Homo sapiens: one gene and its partners. Changing the gene in region 2 together with the main gene of any one other region gives a genetic interaction. Each region holds a gene or a part of one and is shown on either strand. Other genes may lie near its edges.

What was found.
Region 1: changes in HSCB (region 2) and TTC4 together harm fitness less than expected from each alone (positive genetic interaction), as found in Homo sapiens cells (one large-scale study listed by BioGRID).
Region 3: changes in HSCB (region 2) and PMPCB together harm fitness less than expected from each alone (positive genetic interaction), as found in Homo sapiens cells (one large-scale study listed by BioGRID).
Region 4: changes in HSCB (region 2) and PITRM1 together harm fitness less than expected from each alone (positive genetic interaction), as found in Homo sapiens cells (one large-scale study listed by BioGRID).
Region 5: changes in HSCB (region 2) and ABCB7 together harm fitness more than expected from each alone (negative genetic interaction), as found in Homo sapiens cells (one large-scale study listed by BioGRID).

Annotation. Positions count from the first base shown.
Region 1 is NC_000001.11:54,718,861-54,722,360, forward strand, and holds part of TTC4 (tetratricopeptide repeat protein 4), read left to right. Parts: intron 1-2,302; coding exon 2,303-2,380; intron 2,381-3,500.
Region 2 is NC_000022.11:28,748,539-28,752,038, reverse strand, and holds part of HSCB (iron-sulfur cluster co-chaperone protein HscB isoform 1 precursor), read right to left. Parts: intron 799-3,500; coding exon 751-798; intron 1-750.
Region 3 is NC_000007.14:103,300,435-103,303,934, forward strand, and holds part of PMPCB (mitochondrial-processing peptidase subunit beta isoform 1 precursor), read left to right. Parts: intron 1-3,407; coding exon 3,408-3,500. UniProt on the Homo sapiens protein: Catalytic subunit of the essential mitochondrial processing protease (MPP), which cleaves the mitochondrial sequence off newly imported precursors proteins. Preferentially, cleaves after an arginine at position P2.
Region 4 is NC_000010.11:3,161,271-3,167,661, forward strand, and holds part of PITRM1 (presequence protease, mitochondrial isoform 2 precursor), read right to left. Parts: intron 5,773-6,391; coding exon 5,666-5,772; intron 5,111-5,665; coding exon 4,959-5,110; intron 4,258-4,958; coding exon 4,143-4,257; intron 4,065-4,142; coding exon 3,968-4,064; intron 2,616-3,967; coding exon 2,455-2,615; intron 1-2,454. UniProt on the Homo sapiens protein: Metalloendopeptidase of the mitochondrial matrix that functions in peptide cleavage and degradation rather than in protein processing. Has an ATP-independent activity. Specifically cleaves peptides in the range of 5 to 65 residues.
Region 5 is NC_000023.11:75,144,727-75,151,117, forward strand, and holds part of ABCB7 (iron-sulfur clusters transporter ABCB7, mitochondrial), read right to left. Parts: intron 1-6,391. UniProt on the Homo sapiens protein: Exports glutathione-coordinated iron-sulfur clusters such as [2Fe-2S]-(GS)4 cluster from the mitochondria to the cytosol in an ATP-dependent manner allowing the assembly of the cytosolic iron-sulfur (Fe/S) cluster-containing proteins and participates in iron homeostasis.

The DNA of each region.
Region 1 (3,500 bases), on a different chromosome or scaffold from region 2:
AAGTGATCCACCTGCCTTGGTCTCCCAATGTGCTGTGTACTCAGTGGACCTTTTCAGTCTGGAAACTCATGTTTCTAGGACATTTTCCTGAATGCTTTGATATTTTTCTTTTTCTTTTTTACTCTTTTTTCTCTTTTTGGAAATCCTGGCTGCTGGTACTTTGGGAACCAAGTAGGAGAAGAGGACCAAGGGCTCAATCTTTAATATTTCCTTTACTGAATCACCTTTGTGCCTGGGGGTTCCAGTCCAGAGACCTACTGTTTTATTGTCTGCTAGGGTAAACCTCCAGTCCTCCACCTGGAGGAACAGGGGAGGAGTAGGTCACTGGTGCAGCAGAGGGGTAAGGAATATGGGACTCTGACTGCTTCTTAAGTAGATTTTCAACCCACCTTCACCCCCACTTCCAGAGGTACCTGGTGCCATCAGTTCCTGAGTCCTGAGTACTTTGTAGTTTCTGCAGTGCAGCTTGGTAGCTTTTGTGCTTTCCCTCTACTGGTTTAGAATTCAGTTTCCTTAAGCCTGATACATCAGTTACTTGTTCCTTTGTTTTCCAGCTTTCACAATGTGTTCTGTGTTCTTCTCATTTTCTTTGTCTTTATGGGAGAGAGAGTGGGGATTGAGTTAAATGTATGTGTTCAATCTGCCTCCTTTAACTAAAAGTCCTTGGATCCCTTTCATGTGCATTTTTTTCCATGGTTGAGATCCTGCTGTTCTTCCAGTTTGATATTCAGTTTTTTCACTTAATTTTATAACAAACAATTTCACCGTCATTAAAAATCATTTCTGAATGTTATTTCAATAGCTAAAGTTGCATCATATGGACATGCCACTATTTATACTGTTTGCTTTATTAGTCTGCTATTGTTGAGTATATAGACTGTTTTTTGGTTTTTATAAATAATGCAAAAATAAATAAAGTCATAATATTTTTCTGATAATTCTGATTATTCATTAGGCTAAAGCACGATTTGGCAAACTAGGACTCAGAGTCCACCCCTGGCCCCTTGGCTTGCCATGAACTAAAAATGTTCCATACTTTTTTTTTTTTTTTTTTTAAAGTGACAGGGTCTTACTCTGTTCAGGCTGGAGTGTACTAGCTGTGATCATAGCATAGTGCAATCTTAGACTCCTGGGCTCAAGCAATTCTCCCACTTCTGCCTCCCGAGTAGGTAGAACTATAGGCATGTACCACCATGCCCAGCTAATTTTTAAAAAATTTTTTGTAGAGAGAGAGTCTTGCTATATTGCCCAGGCTGGTCTTGAACTCCTGGTCTTAAGCAATCCTCTCACCTCGGTCTCCCATAGTGCTGGGATTGCAGGAGTGAGCCACCTCCCCAGAGGTTTCTTACATTTTTCAAGAATTGTAATAAAATGAAGAAGAATGTGCAGTAGACCACATGTGGCCTGCAACACCTAAAATATTTATCTGGCCCTTTACAAAATATTTTGCTGACCCCTGGGCTAGAGATTTAGGTAAATACTAAACCATTAAGTAATAATTATAGTATACTCCAGAAAGTTAAAGTATACCTCATGGCTTGCTAGTTTGGATAACTGGTATGTGTGTGACTGCATACTTTTTTTTTTTTTTTAATGCACTTACAAATATATACATGTGTGTCTAGATATTTAGTTTTTTTTTTTTTTTAAATAGGCTTCCTCTATACTCATAGAACCACCACTTAAAACAATATAGAACAGACATCCTACCGTGTTTCTTACATGAGGATCTATCTCATTCTTTTTAATGGCTGCATAGTATTCAATAGTATGGATTTACCATAATTCATGTAATCATTACCAAATTGAGGATATTTGAGTTATCTCCAGCTTTTCACAATTAAAGTAATGCTGTAGTTAACATGCTTTTACATTTATCCCTGCACATTTGTTCAAGTATTTTTGATAATTTTCCAGAAGAAAATTGTTGTGTCAAAGTATATGTACAAAATACATGCTAATTTGCTTTCTAATTTACCCTGAGAGTACCCCTTTTCCATATCTTTTCTAATACTAGATATTATTTGTCTAACTTTTAGCAATTTCTTAATTTTAATTTCCTAATCATTAGTGATGTTGAACGTCTTTTCATGTGCTTACTAGCCATTTACAGTTCTGTAGATTGCCTGTTATAGACATTTCTAAGGCTCTTGACAAGTACAACCATATTTTTTCAAAAAAACAGTTGCTCTCATTTGTATTTCCCCAGGATTGTACAAGAGTGTCTTTGTCACTACATATAAAATTTTGGAAACATTTTGATCTCAAAACTTCTCTCTTTTACTAAACGGTGTTTTGTTAGGCAATTTTCGTTCTGCTCTCAATGATGTGACAGCTGCCAGAAAGCTAAAACCCTGCCACCTCAAAGCAATAATAAGAGGTAAGTCTTGTGGAACTACAGTATGACATTTAAAGCTTTGATATGAAGGTGCTAGGATACTAATAAAGTCATCTTATTTTTGCAGTCTGGGTATTAAGTTCCTGTTCCTTATCAACAGCAACATGCCACTTTTAAAAGAATTCCTCAGAGAGTGACTTAACCCTTTATGTAATAATAATTTGTAGAGAACTAGAAGCCCCTCATTTTAAATTAATAAAAAATAAAATTAATTAAAACAAAGCAGTTGCAAAGCCATATTCTGATTTTTTTTCCAAATTAGCTGATTGAAAGGCAAGGTCTTCAAATGCCATGTTAATGTTAATTAAAAGATAAGTTATGGGACCTTTGCTGATGACTTTGGTGCTGAGATGTTCTCAGATTATGTTTTCTCTTGTAGTCTGACCTTTCTATGTAATAACAGTGCTTTTATTACTTTTATACTTCACCTTTTCTTTGAGAAGCTCATAGGTGCTTTGCAAACTTTAATTTATTCATCACATATTAATCTTCCCTGCATCCCCATGGACCAGCTTAAAATGCTTTTTCAAAATTATGCCTCTTTAAATGTTCATGGTTAAGGGCAGTAGGAAGATCCATGTCCCTCAGCTGTAGGAAAAGAAGGTACTGAACAAAGATTGGCTGATAAATTGAATCTAGGTAATCCTGTGGAATTTGCCTCAGGCTAGAAGTGTGTAATCCTTGATTCAGTTGTTGGTTTAATTTACAATGTGACCTTGGCAAGACACCCACTTTGAATATCAGTTTGCTCATCTCTAGAAGATGGGGTTAGAATCTGTTGGCATCTAAGCCCTTACAATGCTTATATTTTGAAATTCTGTGGAAAACCTAAAGAGGCTAACTGGAGAAAAATGTACATGATAACATGAAATTTTTTTTTTTTTTTTTGATGGGGGAGAGGCAGCTTAAACTGGTAGCCATAAAGAACAAAATTAGGAGACACCTAATGTTTTTGGCCTTGCCACTGCCTTGATGAATAGCTGAAGCAAAGTCTGCTTTTTCCCTCCATTGAAAAAATCATCTGGGATGGACTTTATTCTTCCTGTTTGCAGATGAGGAACCTAAAGCTTGGATATGCTTGGTCCTTTGTCTAAGGTCTAGC
Region 2 (3,500 bases):
GCTCACTGCAACCTCAGCCTCCCTGGTTCAAGCAATTCTCCTGGCCTCAGCCTCTTGAGTAGCTGGGACTGTAGGCACATGCCACCACACTCAGTTAATTTTTGTATTTTTAGTAGAGCTGGAGTTTCACCATGTTGGCCAGGCTGGTCTCAAACCCCTAACCTCAAGTGATCTGCCCACCTCACCCTCCCAAAGTGTTGGGATAACAGGCGTGAGTCACTGTTCCCAGATCACTTTTTTGATATAGTTTGTTTCTCTAGAAAGGCAGAAATGTTGATTTTTTTTTTTTTTTTGAGATGGAGTCTCGCTCTGTCACTCAGGCTGGCGTGCAGTGGCACGATCTCAGCTCACTCCAACTTCCGCCTCCCTGGTTCAAGCGATTCTCCTGCCTCAGCCTCCCAAGTAGCTGGGACTACAGGCGTTGTGCCACCACACCCAGTTAATTTTGTATTTTTAGTAGAGACAGAGTTTCACCGTGTTAGCCAGGATGGTCTCAATCTCCTGACTTCGTGATCCGCCCGCCTTAGCCTCCCAGTGTTGGGATTACAGGCATTAGCCACCGTGCCTGGCCAGAAATGTAGATTCTTAAAGGCATTTTTTTAAAGACAGAAATGTAGACTCATAAGTATTTCATATCTCCCTATATAGCTATCATAGGAAGGTATATAATAGCTAGTTATTGAATGAATGGCTATGCTTCAGTGCTTGAAATTTCTTTCCATATTTAAGAAAGTGAAGAAAAGAAAGTACCTTGTTCAAAAGCACTGCTCACATTGTCAGTAAATTCTTTCTGTTTAGCTGAAAAAGAAAACCATTCTGTTAATTTTTCCATTGAAATAGACTCATAATATGAAGACAATACTTAAACTTTGTAATCATGCTGGTTTGAACACAACAAAGGAGGAAGTTTGTATTCAAGGGTAAGGCTTCATAACCTTTGTCTCTGTGTGTACCATGATGGCAGCTGCTGTTTAGCACAACTCTGGTTTACCCTAATAACACTGTTTTTCCAACCATGAAAGGTCTAAGGAGCAATCACCAAGGCTTATAAAATGGCTATAGAATCAGTAAAAAAAAAAAAAAAAAAAAAAAAGACAAAGATATACTTTGATTATCTCCACGAAACAGTTTGGGTCTTCGACATTTCAGCAAGGAGAACATTAACATGCTGGGAACACCTATCAGTAAAGCATTACTGAGTGTTTCCGGCAACCACTTGCAAACTGTATAGCCTCTCAGGAAAATGAAAACATTTACATCATGTTGTGTCATAAGGGAGAAGATGCCAAACAAAATAAAGCAGCAGCTATCTCATATTTCTCGTTTCCTTGTTAGAAAATGAGGAATTTTCCAGTAATCTCATTTTCCAGATATAAATAGTGTCAGTTATTTATATGGTGTCGTCTTTCGAAGCACTGTCAAATACATTATATCCGTAAGGCAGGAAATGACAGGTATTGGGGGAATTGTCCCATGGGTGATGAGTGGAAGAGCTGGGAACAGAATCCAAGTCACTTGACTCCCAGTCCGGTGTTTGAAACTCATCTCTCAGGTAGCAGTGTGGTGTCCACAAAAGAACAACAGACTAGGAACCTGGAGGTTCTTAAGCCCTGACCCTAAAATTAACTAGCTCTATGCCCTTGAACATTAATTTTACCTGGGCCATAGCAGATACCTTACAGGAGAAAATTTAGGAATTAATCTAAATTAAGGTCAGTGAGCTGCTCAAAGTCAAATGTTTACTATAGGGCTAGAATAAGTGTTTTTTTTTTTTTTTTTTTTTTTTTTTTTGAGACAGTTTCGCTCTTGTTGCCCAGGCTGTAGTGCAATGGTGCGATCTCGGCTCACTGCAACCTCCACCTCCTGAGTTCAAGCAATTCTCCTGCCTCAGCCTCTGAAGTTGCTGGGATTATAGGTGTGTGCCACCATGCCCGGCTAATTTTGTATTTTTAGTAGAGACAGGGTTTTGCCATGTTGGTCAGGGTGGTCTTGAACTCCTGACCTCAGGTAATCTGCCCATCTCAGCCTCCCAAAGTAATGGGATTATAGGCATAAGACACCAAACCTGGCCTAGAATACATGCTTTTACGTGCTTTATCTCATTTAACTTGATCCCCACAACCACCAGTACTAATATTATCTCCACGTACAGATGAGGAAATTGAGGCTCAGAGGAATGAAGTCATTTGTTCAAGGTCACGCAAAGTCAGTAGCACGCTGCCCTCACTCCAGATCTTCATGCTGCCCTGACGTCTAAAATTGGGCAGCTGAGCCCACTGACTGCAACTCCTGAGTTTCTCTTATCCCTACAACCCAGTCCTAATGCTGTGAACATATCTCCAAGCTGACGGTCCCCTCACCACAAATTCTATATTACTGCTTTAAACATCTTTTCTCATTACTGTTTGCTCATTTAGTAAATACCAAGTTCCTTTTAAACTATAAGTACTTTTCTGTGAGCTGAGGATGTGAGGGAAGCAAAAAGTAGACATGATTTCTCCTGCAGAACTTCCAGTCTAATGAGGGAGGCTGATATTGATCAATTAATGTCACATAGAACAGTAAAGTTATAACTGTGATTAGTCCTACAAAAGAAATAGCCACTACTAATAGATAGCTTAAAAAGGCTTCTCTGAGGAAGTGATGATTGCCTTCAGATCTGAAGAAGGAGGGGTTAACTTAAATGGGGCGGAGGAGAGGAGGGTTTCAGGCAGAAGCAACAGGCCCTAGGGTAGGAGGGTGCCCAGTATAGATGAGGAACTGGAAGTGGTCATTGTGGCTGGAGTGGAGAAGGCAAAACAGAGAGAAGCAGAGGCCACGGCATCCGGGCCCTGTAAGGGATGCTAAAGAGTTTTAGAGCAGTGAGAAGCCACTTAAAAGTTTTTTTTTTTTTTCTTTGAGACGTGTTTTCGCTCTGTTGCTGAAACTGGAGTGCAATGGTGCAAACACGGTTCACTGCAGTCTCCACCTCCTGGGCTCAAGTGATCCTTCTGCTTCAGCCTCTCGAGTAGCAGGGACTACAGGCATGCGCCACCACATCTGGTTAATTTTTAAATTTTTAATGGAGATGGGGGTCTTGCTATGTTGACTAGGCTAGTCTTGAACTCCTGGGCTCAAGTGATCCTTCCACTTCAGCCTCCCAAAGTGCTTGGATTACAGGCGTAAGCCATCACACCTGGTCAATTGAAATAAGGCCAAGAGTAGTGATTAGATTTGGGTTTTGGCCGGGCTTGGTGGCTCACACCTGTAATCCCAGCACTTTGGGAGGCTGAGATGGATGGATCACCTGAGGTCAGGAGTTTGAGACCAGCCTGGGCAACATGGTAAAACCCCGTCACTACTTAAAAAAAATAGAAAAATTAGCCAAGCATGGTGGCACGCACCTGTAGTCCCAGCTACTTGGGAGGCAGAGGCAGGAGAATAGCTGGAACCTGGGAGGCGGAGGTTGCAGTGAGCCGAGATCATGCCAGTGCACTCCAGCCTGGGCAACAGAGCAAGAC
Region 3 (3,500 bases), on a different chromosome or scaffold from region 2:
TGGGTGAGGGTACAGCTGATCTTATTTTTTTTCTAAATATGACAAATAGTAAATTATGGATGATGGTTTTTCTTAATATGTAGCAATAAAATAGAGATTATTTGGTGGGAATAAAATATTTTGTCAGGACAGCAGTTTGTTAGTTACCATGTTTGTAGACTGTTTTGACTCTCTTAAAAGTTATTACACAAAACATTTCCCAGTGGAAGAATTAACAACAAAATTTAGCAGTTTTAGAGCTAATTGGTAAACTCATTATTTTTGTTTAGAGAGATAGTCTCGCTCTGTCACCTAGGCTGGAGTGCAGTGGTGTGATCTCGGCTCGCTGCAACCTCTGCCTCCTGGGTTCAAGTGATTCTCCTGCCTCAGCCTCCTGAGTAGCTGGGATTATAGGCTCCTGCCACCATAGCTGGCTAGTTTTTATATTTTTAGTAGAGATGGGTTCTACCATGTTGGCCAGGCTGGACTTAAACTCCTGACCTCAAGTGACCCACCTGCCTCGGCCTCCCAAAGTGCTGGGATTATAGGCGTGAGCCACTGTGCACGGCCATTAGTGAAATTTTTAACCTTTAAGGTCCTTCTGTAGTTGTAGTTACTACTTTGCAATTTTGGATTCCTAATAGACTTTCATTAATAATGTTTAAATGGCACTTAACACAAGTACTTTTGTGTATATATTATCCATTTGATGTGCATAGGTGTTTCCACCTTGCAGTTGTGGAAATTGAAGCTCAGACTCTGACTTGCCCAGGATTGCATAGCTATCAGGTGGCTTACTGTGGACTCAAGTGCGTGTCTTCTTACCAGATTCATTTGCTTTGTCAAAACAATAAAATAAGAAACCTATCACTTGTAAATAACTAAAATACTTAATATGATACCCTAACTTTTGCATTAAAACAAAAATGACAGCAACGATGGAGGGTATGTTGGTTTGAATAACAAAACCAATAGAGACAGTTTTTGTCCCAGGACTAATTAGGGACCAAGAACATATGGCTAGGCCAAGGTTCTTTAAAGAGTTGTTCATTCCAGCCTAGTTCCTTCCTTTATTTACACAGAACAACAGGGAAGGCAAAAAGGAGAAACAGAAAAAGGAAGGATGAAATTAAACGACTTTTTTCCCCCTTTTCTCCTGGCATCTAGCTGGGAACGACAGAGCTTCTGCTAGTGGGAGTGGAAAAACAGGGGCTTTCCCTGAGGAATGCAAAATGGAAGTGCTCTCTGAAGCAGCTCCAACTTTGGGGATTTACTTGGGGTTTTTCACCCTTCACCCTGGGTGTGAAGCCTGGTATATGAAGTAATAATTAGATGTTTAGACTAATGGTCTCCAGGTTTTTATGATCACTTATTCTTTTTTTTTAATTTTTATTTTTTATTATTATACTTTAAGTTCTAGGGTACATGTGTACAACGTGCAGGTTTGTTACATATGTATTCATGTGCCGTGTTGGTGTGCTGCACCCGTTAACTCGTCATTTACATTAGGTATATCTCCTAACGCTATCCCTCCCTGCTCCCACCACCCCACGACAGGCTCCGGTGTGTGATGTTCCCACCTCGTGTCCAAGTGTTCTCATTGTTCAATTCCCACCTATAAGTGAGAACATGCGGTGTTTGGTTTTTTGTCCTTGTGATAGTTTGCTCAGAATGATGGTTTCCAGCTTCATCCATGTCCCTACAAAGGACATGAACTCATCCTTTTTTATGGATGCATAGTATTCCATGGTGTATATGTGCCACATTTTCTTAATCCAGTCTATCATTGATGGACATTTGGGTTGGTTCCAAGTCTTTGCTATTGTGAATAGTGCTGCAGTAAACATACGTGTGCATGATGATCACTTACTCTTATTGGTAAGAAAGTTGATCATATATCCTTAATGTATGTATACTTGTAAGTTAAATACATGTGCTACTATACTAACATATATTAAATACACATTTAAAAAAAAGATTCAGATTAAAACAGACTGGGAAATAGGAGCCCCCCTCCCTGCCTTTGGAAACTACCAGGGTAGACCACCAATCCCACATAAAGGAGGATTTTCACACAGGAATTCTTGTCCTTCCATTTGTCTATGGGCTCTTTCTCACCCATTTTACTGGACTCTGTTCTCTTATCTGGACAGATGGGTTTTATTTGGTTTTACAGATAATTTTTTCCTTTTGGTCATGATCTCAGCCACAGCTTACTATAATAGTTTGTTCTGTCATGTTCTTAGTATTTGAACATAATCAGTTCTGAGACAGTGCCCCTTAAAGTGAACTTAATTAAAACAAGCAACAACAGTTTGTAGTAGAGTAAAAAATGAAACCTAAACCAGACACGGTAGTACATGCCTTTAGTCTTGGCTACTTGGAGGAAGCTGAGGCAGGAGGATTGTTTGAGCCCAGGAATTTTGAGTCCAGTCTGGGCAGCATAATGAGACCTTGTCTCTTAGGGGAAAAAAAAGAAACTTAAGATTGTAAGTTTATTTTATAACATTAATCGTATTAATGAAATTTAGATTTATGATTGCAACTATGTACTAATTCTTCAAGAATGAAGCACAGTTTTTTTTTTGGAGAGGTATGCGCTTTTTCTGATAAAATTGCTTAATGGCCTAATATAACATGTTCCACTTCACTTTTGGCTTTTTGCAAATTAGGGTTTGAGAACACACAATTCTGTGATTCATTTGGGGCATATTTTAGATTGTAAGGATTCTTTTCTCTGTTGCCCAGGCGAGAGTGCAGTGGTGCAATCGCAGCTCACTGCAATCTTTGCCTCCCGAGCTCCACCCATCCTCCCATCTCAGCCTCCCGAGTAGCAGGGACTACGGGCACATGCCACCACACGAAGCTAATTTTTGTATTTTTTGTAGAGACAGGATTTTGGCATGTTCCCCAGGTTGGTCTGGAACTCCTGGGCTGAAGCCCATATTAGCCTCCCAAAGTGCTGGGATTATATAGGTGTGAGCCACGGTGCCTGACCAGTTCTTTGCTTCTTAACATAGCACTGTCATTGCTGTGGGAACTTGCATAGTAAATACTTGGGTGATACAAACCCTCTGTACATTGCTAGCTAGGTATTTTCAGACTAATATATATAACTTTGTAATTTTCATATAGAACAATCTATATTAATATGCAAATTTCCATAGCATTTTTTAAGTAGGTAGAGTCATTACAAGGTGATGGCAAATTTATACTTTTTCCCCAAGGAAAAAATCTTTTGTACTATAGGGGTTTATATGTTAAATTTTAATTTTGTCCTGTTAAGTATATCTGATGTTTTTCTCCTAGGCTAATCATTTAGTATTGAGTGATGGGTCAGTGTCATGATTTCTGATTTTGGTTTAATAGATTTTAATAGTGAAAGTTAAGATTGCTGGCACGTTTTCTTATATTTTATTTTCAATTAGCTGTAGAAATTCTTGCTGATATAATACAAAACAGCACATTGGGAGAAGCAGAGATTGAACGTGAGCGTGGAGTAATCCTTAGAGAGATGCAGG
Region 4 (6,391 bases), on a different chromosome or scaffold from region 2:
CCTAGGTACAGTAATATAGTAATCCAACTGACAATTTCACAAAACTCAATTTTTGGCAACAAATTCAAGGTTATACACGTTTATAAAGATAACACATTTATTCAACCAGAGGAAAAAGGTTACAATGACAGAATTTATCTTTTTCTTTACTATATAGCCTGAGCTATGGTTAAGGTTTGGGAAACTAGTATCTTACAGAACCTTCAGAAATTTCTCACTCTAGAATTTAGAAACAAATTTTACACACTCGGGGTTGAGAGAATCCAGGAGCAATCACCACCCCTAGTGTTCAGATGCTGCTCTCCAAAGACCCTTCCCCATTAGCCACAGAAATCAGAGCTCCCTGGGGAAACAGACAGTTGAACCTCTGGAGCAGGGAGGGCCCGGCTGTGCGTGCATTAGGGAGGTGGGGGTGGGGGCGTAGAAACCAAAGAAGTTAGACCAAAACGGGCCCACAGCTGGGGCAAATGTGGGCATAAAAATGAATAAATTCCATCTGATCACATAATCTCAAATATATACATATACAGAAATATTTCTGTGAGGTCAGAGTGGTACTAAAAAACAAAACAAGACTGGGGAAAAAAAAAAAAAAGAAGAAAAGAAAGAACTCTCTTCTCCATGTTGGGCGCAGTGGCTCACACCTGTAATCCCAGCACTTTGGGAGGTCAAGGTGGGCAGACTGAACTCAGAAGTTCAAGACCAGCCTGGGCAACATGGCGAGACTCTGTCTCTACAAAAAAATATAAGCACTAGCTGGGCATGGTGGCGTGCGCCTGTAGTCCCAGCTACTCAGGAGGCTGAGGTGGCCCAGGAGGCTGAGGCTGCAGTAAGACAAGATCATGCCACTGTACTCCAGCCTGGGGGACAGAACCAGACCCTGTCTTTAAAAAAAAAAAAAAAAAAAAACAAGACAGCCTCTTCTGTCACCATTAAAAGTAGTTCCTGCACCACCCCTCCTCCTCAAACTGGACTTCCCAGGGAGAGCAGCCGGCCCTGCCTTTTCCACAGAACCATATTTCAAGATAACCCGATAGCCCAGCTGATGTGGAGCTCTTCTTTGAAGAAGTCCAGCAAACAAATGAAGAAGTTACAGAACTAGAAAACTTCGCAAACTCTAATAAAGTAATTGATTCAGGCAATAATCCTCAATGAATATGAAAACCATTAATAGGTTGATGAGGAACTCATTATCACAGGACACCAGAAACTCAAGCCCACCAGATGGTCTGTGGCTGAAGGGAAAAAGCAGATCTTCCCAAGGCAGTGGCTGACTCTCAGCATGGACCCCGCTGGTGTGAGATCCCCAGTGGAGGCGAGCAGACCTCACATGATGGTAGGATGTGGCCGTCTATGGAGAGCTCCCCATGAGGGACTCTGCTTACAAAGGCACAGCCTGACTCAAACTAAGTCTTTGGATCTAAGTTCCAGTGCTCAGGAAACACAGGAACATGGCACCCAACACCAGGCGGGAACAGCCAGGCCACCTGGAAAGTGAGTGCGCCAGAAAGAAACTGGGCCTGCACACTCCTCTGCCGTCCCCTAGAGGGTGCCCAGGAGAAACCCGGGCCGACCAGGTGTGACCTGTGGGACCCCGTGCAACAAACACTTTGGGGCCAACTAGAAAATCTGAATATGGAATAAGAAATAGGCAGTTTTAAGAAAGTATGTTTTATTCTATTAAAACTGAAAATGGCATTAGCTCATGTAAGAAAAAATCCTCACGTTTTAGGGTCACAAATTCAAACATTTACGGGCAAATGATCATGACGTCTATAATTTACTTCCAAAAACTTCAGCAAGGGAAAGGATATCTATTACATGATAAGTGTTTAGGGGCTCATTATTCTAGTATCTCTACTTTTCTGTATGCTTCAAGTTTTCATAATTATTTTTACATAAAATAATCTTGCAAATATGTTTTTACATTAGCATTCATATGTAAATACAATTAGTGTTTTATATAAGATATATGACTATATTATTATTATAATGACCTTGTATTAGTGACATAAGAACAAGCAATGTATCAGAAAGTGAGGATGTAATTAAGGTTCAGTAACTGCATCCACTATTGGAAGAGCACTTCTCCGTGCCAAGGAGAGGGCTTCAAGCTTCACACCCCGTGTCAAGGTGGGCACCATCCATGCACCCCCACTTTCCACGCAACCAAGCTAGATGTGAGGCAACAGGCTGCGGGGCCAGGACCCTCCTCTGGGGGACTCTAAACGCTGTGTTTGTAACCACCATGCTGAGCCTCCTGAGGGCTATCATTGTAAATGTCCAAAATCAATGTCCAAGTAAGATAGGCAAACTTAGGCCAAGAATCTTACCTAGACTTAGATATTTCTTAAGCATTGCTAAATGTGAGAGAAGCCATGCCATAAACTGTTAAGAACACAAACAAGTCAACTTTTCACAATCCACCATCAAACTTTTCCAACAAAATATTACCTAGCATTGCTTGGGTGATAGTGAGTGGCATGAAACTGCTTAAGCTGCTCCCATGTAAGCTCCGGGATGCACAGTGGGTCACCCCCGGAGACCACTGAGTACGTGTGGTCAGGAAGAAGTCTGTTCTGAAGGTGCTGGGAGAATATCCTCTCATTGTCTGTCTTGAAACGTAAAATAAATAAATCATAAGTATACATGTAAAATAATACACACGTTACATTACTTACAATATAGCCAATTGATCACATTCTGGTGCATACACCTGTAATACTTTGCAAATAAAGCTGTTCTAATGGTTTAAAAAAAAAAAAAAAACACCCACGCAGGCATTGTTTAACACGGTATTCAATCATTCATCACCCACGCACAGGACCCAAGGATTGAGAAGAACAATGGATTTTTTGATGTGTGGTGCAACAAACGCATAGCTGAGGGCTGTAAATCGGGATGGATCAGTCGGTCTGCCCACCAGCCGTGAGGGAAGTGGGGAGAAGCTGTCACCCCAACTTGAGTTCAAGAAGACTCCTTGGAAGAAAAGACCACCAAATTGAGAATGAAAAGGTAAGAAATAGTTCACCAGCCGAGAGGAGCTACGGGAATCAGAGAGCAGGCCACCCATGAGCCTCAGGGACACCAGGACAGACAGGTTGTCCAAGTCACAAAGGGACATGAAGACATGGGCCCAGGACAGCAGCTCTTAATCCAAAATGGTCTCAAGAATCCTTTACACTCTGAAAAATTAACCCATTTATGCCTGAGGTTGCAATTTTTTTGTAAAAAATCAGACCTTGGCGATGACCTTGAGCTGTAGGACATAAATAACTCCCACAAGCTTAGGGTGCCAATAATGGAACACTAGGCATAAATGCGTTTTAATGAGGACCCAAACAGCTTTTGATTATGTGGGCGTTTTTGCCTGTGTAGGTGCCTGTGTGTGTTTATATAATTTTTCTATATTCTAAATTAAAGCTGAGACATTTAAAAAATACTTATTCATTAAGGTAAGCCATCATTACATGTTGATATAAATATTTTTGAAAAATACTTCTCATAACAAAGTAAAAAACTGATTAGAGTGGTGCTGTGTTGCCTTTTTTGCAAATCTCTGTAGCGTCTGGCTCAGAGGTGAAGCTGGACTCCCCCATTTGCTCTGTATGCAGCTCGCTGTGTGTCACACACCTTGCCATGCAGCCTCTAGAAAGTACACCGTGTACTTGGGCAAGAATGAATGAAAAGACACTGTCTTGGTAGTGGTATGAAAATAGCTTTTATCTCACAGACTTGCTGCAGATCACATACCAGGGGTCCCCAGACATGGTCTGAGACCTGCTGGGAAGAACAGCAGCCTGGCCCTGCTACCCCGACTTCTGCTCACAGCACTGACCCCAGCTAATTCAAGAATGTATCACCTATAATGAGAATATTAAATAAAATCTTCCAGATGTGTCTATATCATGATATTGTACATGGGAAAGGTAAGCTGAACACAACATAAAAAAGGAAGAAAACTTACAAACGCTCCCTTCATCTCATTAAAGACGACTCCTTTAAAGACCAAGGGCGTCTGGGGGTCGCTCGGATTCTCATGTTCCAGCCGCCATCCTTCCTGCCTGAGGACAAATCATTATAAGCTGATAGTGACTCAAATACTAAAGTCTGTATCAACTAGTTAATCATTCATGACATACCAGAAATCCAGCTCGCGTAAACATGGGAAAAAGGTGGCATCCAAATACACCGAGAGGAGATTCTGAAAGTCCTTGGGATTTTGTGTGGAAAATGGATACAGAGTATAATCACTAGCTGGGTACAAATGAAAAGTGAAATTGTAAAATATAACAGATTTCTACTAAAATTATTGACTCTCAAGACTCATTCCCCCTTTGTCCTAGGACAGTAAGCTGTAGCTATTCTTGGGATGGGGCAGTGGCCCCATGCTCTGGTCCCTGGCCTCAGCAGCTGTCCCAGCTCATAACCCCAAGTGCCGGCTTTCCCATCCCGTCTCAGGATCTGCACTCGACGGGCACCAGGGCTTTCTTCAGCGAATATCTAAACTCTCTCAAGTTTCTCCAGAGACTTTCATACATCTACAAAGATGACCTCATTCTGTAACAGCATGGATTTAACCCGCTCTTCAATGTCACTCCCCCACAGAATGCACTGTTCATCGTCACCCTATCCACTATCGTCAGTCTTACTAAAAGTCAAACATCAACATTAGTAGTAACTCTGGCATTGTAGCGATATCTCCAAGAGAAAATTGTTTTGAACTTTTCTGGGAAAAGTTCACATATGTTTTCTTAAAACGCTAGTTTTTACAATCTCGCTACCATGTGGCTTTCCTGAAGGATTAAATTTCTAATGTCCTTCAACTAGAGAGAGGTAAAAATTTTTCTAGAACATGAATTGCCCACTCCCCTCATTCCTTCTCAGAAACTAACTGAATTCCAGTGGGTGTGCCTGGCAAACCCAAAAGCAGTTTCTGTTCAGGATGCTGGTCTTACCTGTGAAGGCGTTCATGAACGTGGAGAGGGACCGGTTCAACATTTTGAAGAAAGGGTCTCTGCACGGATATTTCTGAGACCCACAAAGGACGGTATGCTCAAGAATGTGAGGAACACCAGTACTGTCCATGGGAGTAGTACGGAACTGCACGCTAGGGAAGGAGAATGACCAGAACGCAAAAGGTTCAGCTTAGTGCTGCGGACACAGTTCCCAGATGCATCATCACCTCAGGCTACTAGAAATCATCATTCTGACACCACAATCCTCCAGCACAGGGTTTTCCAACTATAATGTAAATCATTGACTCAGACTGTAAAATTGTATTTTGATGAGATTATAAGTCAGTGTAAACTTTTCCTTATTTTTCAAGATGCTCTGTCAATAAAAATACTAGTGAGATGATATTTTAAACCACGTAATGTATAGCCATGTTTTAAATCAAGCTTGTCCAACCCGCAGCCTGCAGCCCGCATGCTCAGGATGGCTTGAAATGCAGCCCAACACAAATTCATACACTTTCTTAAAACATTGAGGGGTCCTTTATTTATTATTTTTAGCTCATCAGCTGTCCTTAGTGTTAGTGTATTTTATGCGTGGCCTAAGACAGTTGTTCTTCTTCCATTGTGGCACAGGGAAGCCAAAAGAATGGACATTCCTGATTTAAATAAAAACATTCAAGACCATGTTCTTACAATGCACCACACACCTGAACAGATTATTCGTGTCTTCTCTGGCCAGGTGTAAATACCTGGCTCCTGTGTCATCATGGGTGAGCTTCACTGCAGTCAGGAACAGCTCGGGAACAGATGTCACCTGAGTTAACAAGAAAAACACGACCAGTTAAACTTAGACAAAATGGCCTTTGAAATGGTTATGTTCGACACACTGAGAAAACTGGCTTTTCTGCCTGAAATTAGATGATGCCGGGAAGGCAGTATTTCAGAGCTGGAGAGAAGAGAACCATCTTGTCCAGGTCCCTTATCCTACAAACAAGGAAAGACAGACCTAAAAAAGGCAGATGAGAATATGTGTGTGTGTGTATAGAAAGAGAGAGAGAGCGAGCGAGCGAGCGAGCGCGAGAGCGCACGCGCTTACTACTGGCTAGGTATTTTAGATTTTTTTATTTTTTAAATTTTTTATTCTTTTTTTGGCTAGGCATTTTCTAATCATGTCACATATAATCCTGTGAGGGAGGTATTCTCATACTCATTTACAGACGAAAAAACCGAGGCTCAGGGTGATGAAATAAGCTGCCTAAATCACAGAGCCAGGATTCACCCTGGTGTCTGCCCTTCCCATGGTACCATGCTGCACCTAAGTAACAGAGCGCCCTTTCCAATGTCTGCTGAGTGTCTCCTGCTTTTGTGTGCTGTGCCTCAGTAACACAGCGCCCCTTCCAATGTCTGCTGAGTGTCTCCTGCTTTTGTGTGCT
Region 5 (6,391 bases), on a different chromosome or scaffold from region 2:
GTATAAATAGCTCTTTATTAGGCAGAATCAAATATGCAGAATCAAATATGCACAGCAAGAGGAGAAACCACTGAAATGAATAGGAAACACTAGGACTCAATTTCCAAAGAATCTCCCAATTCCGCAATGAAGTAACAACCAAAAACTGGTTACATTTAAAAGCAGCAAATACTTCCAGGAATGCTTTATAAATGCATTAAAGACTTTTTTATTCTGGGATGGGGTGCTGGCCATCTCAGATATTGGTGTCTTCTCTATGTCCCACAAGCAGGAGTGATCGCTCAGAGTATGGGAGGATCTCCATGAACCAGGAAGAAATTGAATCCCTGAACAGACCAATAATGAGTTCTTTACTTGAGGCAGTAATAAACAGCCTACCAACCACAAAAAGCCCACGACGAGACAGATTCACAGCTGAATTCTACCAAATGTACAAAGAGCTGGTACCATTCATACTGAAACTATTCCAAAAAATTGAGAAGGAACTCCTCCCTAACTCATTCTGAGACCAGCATCATCCTCATACCAAAACTTGGCAGAGACACAACACCAAAAAAAACTTCAGGCCAATATCCTTAATGAACACTAACGCAAAAATCCTCAACAAAATACTGGCAAACCAAATCCATCAGCACATCAAAAAGCTTATCCACCACAATCAAGTAGGCTTTATCCCCAGGACTCAAGGTTGGTTCAACACACCCAAATCAATAAATGTGATTCATCACATAAACAGAAGTAAAGACAAAAACCACATGATTATCTCAATAGATACAGAAAAGGCTTTCAATAAAATTCAACATCTATTCATGTTAAAAACTCTCAATAAACTAGATATTGAAGGAACATACCTCAAAATATGAAGAGCCGTATGTGACAAACCCACAGCCAACATCACAACATCATACTGAATGAGGAAAAGCTGGAAGCATTCCCCTGACAACCAGCACAAGACAAGGATGCCCTCTCTCACCACTCCTATTCAACACAGTATTGGAAGTTCTGGCCAGGGCAATCAGGTAAGAGAAAGAAATACAGGGCATCCAAATAGGAAGAGAAGAAGTCAAACTATCCCTGTTGGCAGATGGCATGATCCTGTATCTAGAAAACTCCATAGTGTCAGCCCAAAAGCTTTTTAATCTGATAAACAACTTCAGCAAAGTCTCAGGACACAAAATCAATGTGCAAAAATCACTAGCAGTGAGTCAAGGCCGGCTCTAAAAAAATAAAAATTAAAATAAAAAGATAAAAAAATAAAAACAAAAATCACTAGCATTCCTATACACCGACAACCATCAAGCCAAGCACCAATGAGGAACAAACTTTCATTTACAATTGCCACAGAGAAAATAAAATACCTAGGAATACAGCTAACTATAAGGAGGTGAAAGATCTCTACAAGGAGAACTACAAACCGCTAATCAAAGAAATCAGAGATGACACAAACAAATGGAAAAACATTTCATGCTCATGGATAGGAAGAATCAATATAGTCAGAATGGTCATACTGCCCAAAGCAATTTATAGATTCAATGCTACTCCTATTAAATGTCAATGGTAATTGACATTGTTCACAGAACTAGAGACAACTATTTTAAAATCCAAATGGAAACAAAAAAGAATCCAAATAGCCAAGGCAATCCTAAGAAAAAAGAATGAAGCTGGAGGTATCACATTACCTGATTTCAAACTATACTACAAGGCTACAGTAACCAAAACCGCATGGTACTGGTACAAAAACAGACACACAGACCAATGGAACAGAATAGAGACTCCAGAAATAAGGCCTAACACCTACAACCATATCATCTTCAACAAACCTGACAAAAACAAGCAATGGGGAAAGGAGTCCTTATTCAATAAATGGTGCTGGGATAACTGGCTAGCCACAGGCCGAAGATTGAAACTGGAGCCTTCCTTATACCATAAACAAAAATTAACTCAAGATGGATTAAAGACTTACATGTAAAATCCAAAAGTATAAAAACCATGGAAGACAACCTAAGTAATACCATTCAGGACAGAGACACGGGAAAAGATTTCATGACAAAAACAACAAAAGCAACTGCAACAAAAGTAAAAATTGACAAATGAGGTCTAATTAAACTAAAGAACTTCTGCATAGCAAAAGAAACTGTCAACAGAGTAAGCAGACAACCTATAGAATGGGAGAAAATTTTTGCAAATTATGCGTCCAACAAAGCTCTAATAATATCCAGCATCTATAAGGAACTTAAACAAATTTACAAGAAAAAAAAACATAAAGTGGACAAAGTATATGAAAAAAACACTTTTCCAAAGAAGACATACATGCAGCCAACAAGCACACAAAAAAAAAAATGCTCAACATCACTAATCATTAGAGAAATGCAAATCAAAATCACAACAAAACACCACCTAACACCAGTCAGAATGGCTAGTATTAAAAAGTCAAAAAATAACAGATGCTGGTGAGGTTATGAAGAAAAAGGAACACTTATATGCACTGTTGGTGGGAGTGTAAATTAGTTCAACTACTGTGGAGAGCAGTGTGGCAATTCCTCAAAGAATGAAAAACAGAATTACCATTTGACCCAGCAATCCTATTACTGGGTATGTACCCCAAGGAATATAAATCATTCTATTATAAAGACACATGCATGCGTATGTTCATTGCAGTACCATTCACAATAGCAAACACATGGAATCAACCTAAATGCCTATCAATGACAGACTAGATAAAGAAAATGTGGTACAAATATATCATGGAATACTATGCAGCCATAAAAAAGAACAAAATCACGTCCTTTGCAGTGACATGGCTGGAGCTGGAGGCCATTATCCTTAGCAAATTAACACAGGAACAGAAAACTAAGTACTACATGTTCTCACTTACAAGTAGGAGCTAAATGATGAGAACACATAGACACATACAAGGAAACAACACACACTGGGGCCTATCAGAGGGTGGAAGGTGGAAGAAGGGAGAGGATCAGAAAAAATAACTAATGGCTACTAGGCTTAATACCTGGGTGATAAAATAATTTGTACAACAAACCTCCATGACATAAGTTTACCTATGTAACAAACCTGCACATGTACTCCTGAACTTAAAATAAAAGTTACAAGGCCAGGCGTGGTGGCTCAGGCCTGTAATCCCAGCACTTTGGAAGGCCGAGGTGGGCGGATCACCTGAGGTCAGGAGTTCGAGACTAGCCTGGCCAACATGGCGAAACCCTATCTCTACTAAAAATACAAAAATTAGCCAGGTGTGGTGGTGTGCGCCTGTAATCCCAGCTACTTGGGAGGCTGAGGCAGGAGAATCGCTTGAACCTGGGAGGCAGAGGTGGCAGTGAGCCAAGATTGTGCCACTGCATTCCAACCTGGGTGACAGAGCACAACTCCATCGCAAAAAAATAAAAAATAAAAAATAAACAAATAAAATAAAAGTTACAGAGATGATAAAATGCATTACTACTAGCAGACAAAACAAATTGGACTTCAAATAAATGAACATAATATAACCTACTCAAAAAGGTCAGTTCATCAATTGAAAAGCTTAAACATGAAATATTTTTCTCATTGTAAAAACAAGTACAGTATATCAAACTATGTCTGTGTATCCATAATAGCAAATTAAATTTTTTTTGTTTGTTTTTTAGCATCCCAAACCCCCCCCCAACCCCCGAGGTAACCACTTTTACCAGACTGGAGTATATCTTTCCAATTTTCTATGTATTTGCATATACATACACACACATACAAACACATACACACATTGTTATGGTCTGAACTGTGTACTCCCCACCCCCACAAATTTATATGTTGAAGTCCTAACCTCTAATACTTCAGAATGTGACTATATTTGGAAACAGGGCCCTTAAAGAGGTAATTAAAGTTCAATGAGGTCATTAAGGTGGGCCTTAATCCAATATGACCAGTATACTTCTAAGAAGAGGATATCAGGACACAGACACAAACAGTGGAAAAGACAGTGTGAAGACAGAGGTATAAGATGGCCATCTACATGCCAAGGAGAGAGACCTCAGAAGAAATCAACTCTACTGACACCTTCATCTTGGACTTCATGGGTTCCAGAACTGTGAGAAAATACATTTCTGTTGTATAAGCCACCCAATCTGTGGTGTTATGGCAAACGTAGCAGGCAAGCACACATGTACATGCACAGTTATTAAGTCACTACAGTCAGAGTAGTTGAAGAAAGAGTTCATACTTAGCAAACATTCATGCACTCAAAAATATGAATATATTACAATATTATAGTATAAGTTACTCAAGATCAGTAAAAACAATTTTATAAGTAAACCAAAATCGAAGCTTCACCTTGTCTTTTTCTAATATGCTTTGAAAAGCAGAAGTTTAAAAGTTGCTCTCCCAAAACATCAGCACCTAAGGAACTATACCCTTAGGATGCGGTTTCCCTACTTTAATATCCATCCCTCTCTAGATATTGTAAAGAAAACTTAATCAGAGGACTAATGAACATCCCAAAATACAGTGTGCAGTTAAAATTTCTACAAACAGCAAATTTTTATATCTTATTCCTCAAAGAATGTTATCCTGTAAGTCACTTTATCTTAGCAAATGATGCTCACAAATAAAGTAACTCAAAAATTTTAGGATAAAAAGTAAGTGTGCTTTGGTTATTGAACTAAAACTGACAACAATCAGTGATGCTACTCCACCACGGTACCATATGCCTAATGACAGAAATGCAACGGACAAACTTATGAGGTTGCCCTGAAGAAAGTTAGCTTTCAATTCCAAATGTATAGCAGTGGAGCAAATATTATTAATTATTATGTTAGATTTTTGCTTTGGTTTGGTTATAGAGTTTAATCATTCATTTTACATATATTTTCTGATTACCTATTACATGTAACATACCGTGCCTAGCTCTGTGGAAGATAAAAACAAAAAGATGATTGGAATATATTAGCATTTTAGGCACATAAAATCTTATCTCCTCCACAAGATACATAACTACTTGTAGGAAAAAGTGTTGTAGGAGTTCAGAGGAGGGAGAAATCAAAGTCTTATTAGCTTATAAGGAATGGTTTCAGGGAACGGACTGACCTTTGAACTAACATTTGAAAAATAGGCACCAGTTAGAGAGAGGGCATTTCAGACATAGGGTGTGGCATAAAAAAAAGAACAGACACAAAAAAGCACATGGTCCAAGGAACAGGGAACAATATAGGGTGACTGGAGGGACAGGGTATTTGTAGAGAAACAGTTTACAATATGGCTAGCAATCTAGTTAGGTGGAAATTTTTAAGGCTAAGATATAAAGCCCACTGAAGTTTATGCAGGGAAGTGATGGGATAAAAGTCATGCCTTAGGAAGAATAATCTAGATGTGCTGTATAGGATGGATTGAAAGGGCAAGTCCCTGAAAGCAGGGACAAAACCCATGCATAAAGTAATAAGGGTCTAAAACTAGGGCAGAAGTTAAGGGACTGAAAAGGACAGAAGAGGCCATTGCTACTACAAAGAAATGTTCATCTACCTAACCGGATTACTGTGAAGACCAAATGACATTAAATAAAGACTTGAAAAGTATCTTTACTCACTAGTGGCAAATCCTACAAGGGAGTCAAGAGAGCACAGATGAGGACTTCAGGGAGATGGATTTCAGGAAAGGAAGGAGAAAATCAAAACAACAAAAATATCACATTTTGCAGGTAACTATATATACCTATTAACATTACTAAAATCTTAAGTAATTAAAAGACCTAATTTTGGTCAAGACTGAGCACCAAGAAAAAAAATGCTCACAAGTAAAAACAGAATTTAAAATTATCCCAATAATGTAAAAATTATGTACATGAAAGAACAGAGATTCAAAGGAAAAAGGAAAAATTATTTAACATGTGGGATTGTAGATATCTGTCTTGACGTTTTTATTAGATGTGGTTTTGTATAATTAAAATGGGGACAATGTAAAGCATAAGAATCGTATACAGAATGGGCAATTTTATCTCTTATTATATACCTTATTTTACAATATGGGAAAGAACATACTTTTCTTTGAAAAAGCAAAATCTTTAAGATAACACTGACAACAATACAGCAATAAATGATATTAATTTTATAACAATTGTATAACAATAATTAAATGATCAATTATGCATTTATCATTTAATCAAAATTTTGATGTAAGTTTCCACTCTATTTCTACCCCGCTGCCCAGTGACAAGTGCTCTTTATCTTGCCACTGGCTACTCAGGAACACCATTAGAAACCCACCAGCCAGCAATATTGTATTAATCAGGGATTACTGACTGGAAGAGGGGATAGGTTTCTGATTCCCCTGAAATTGCATGCAAAATGAAGCACATACGTATGTATATTTTTCTAGGGAGAAGGTCTATGGCTTTGATCAGATTCTC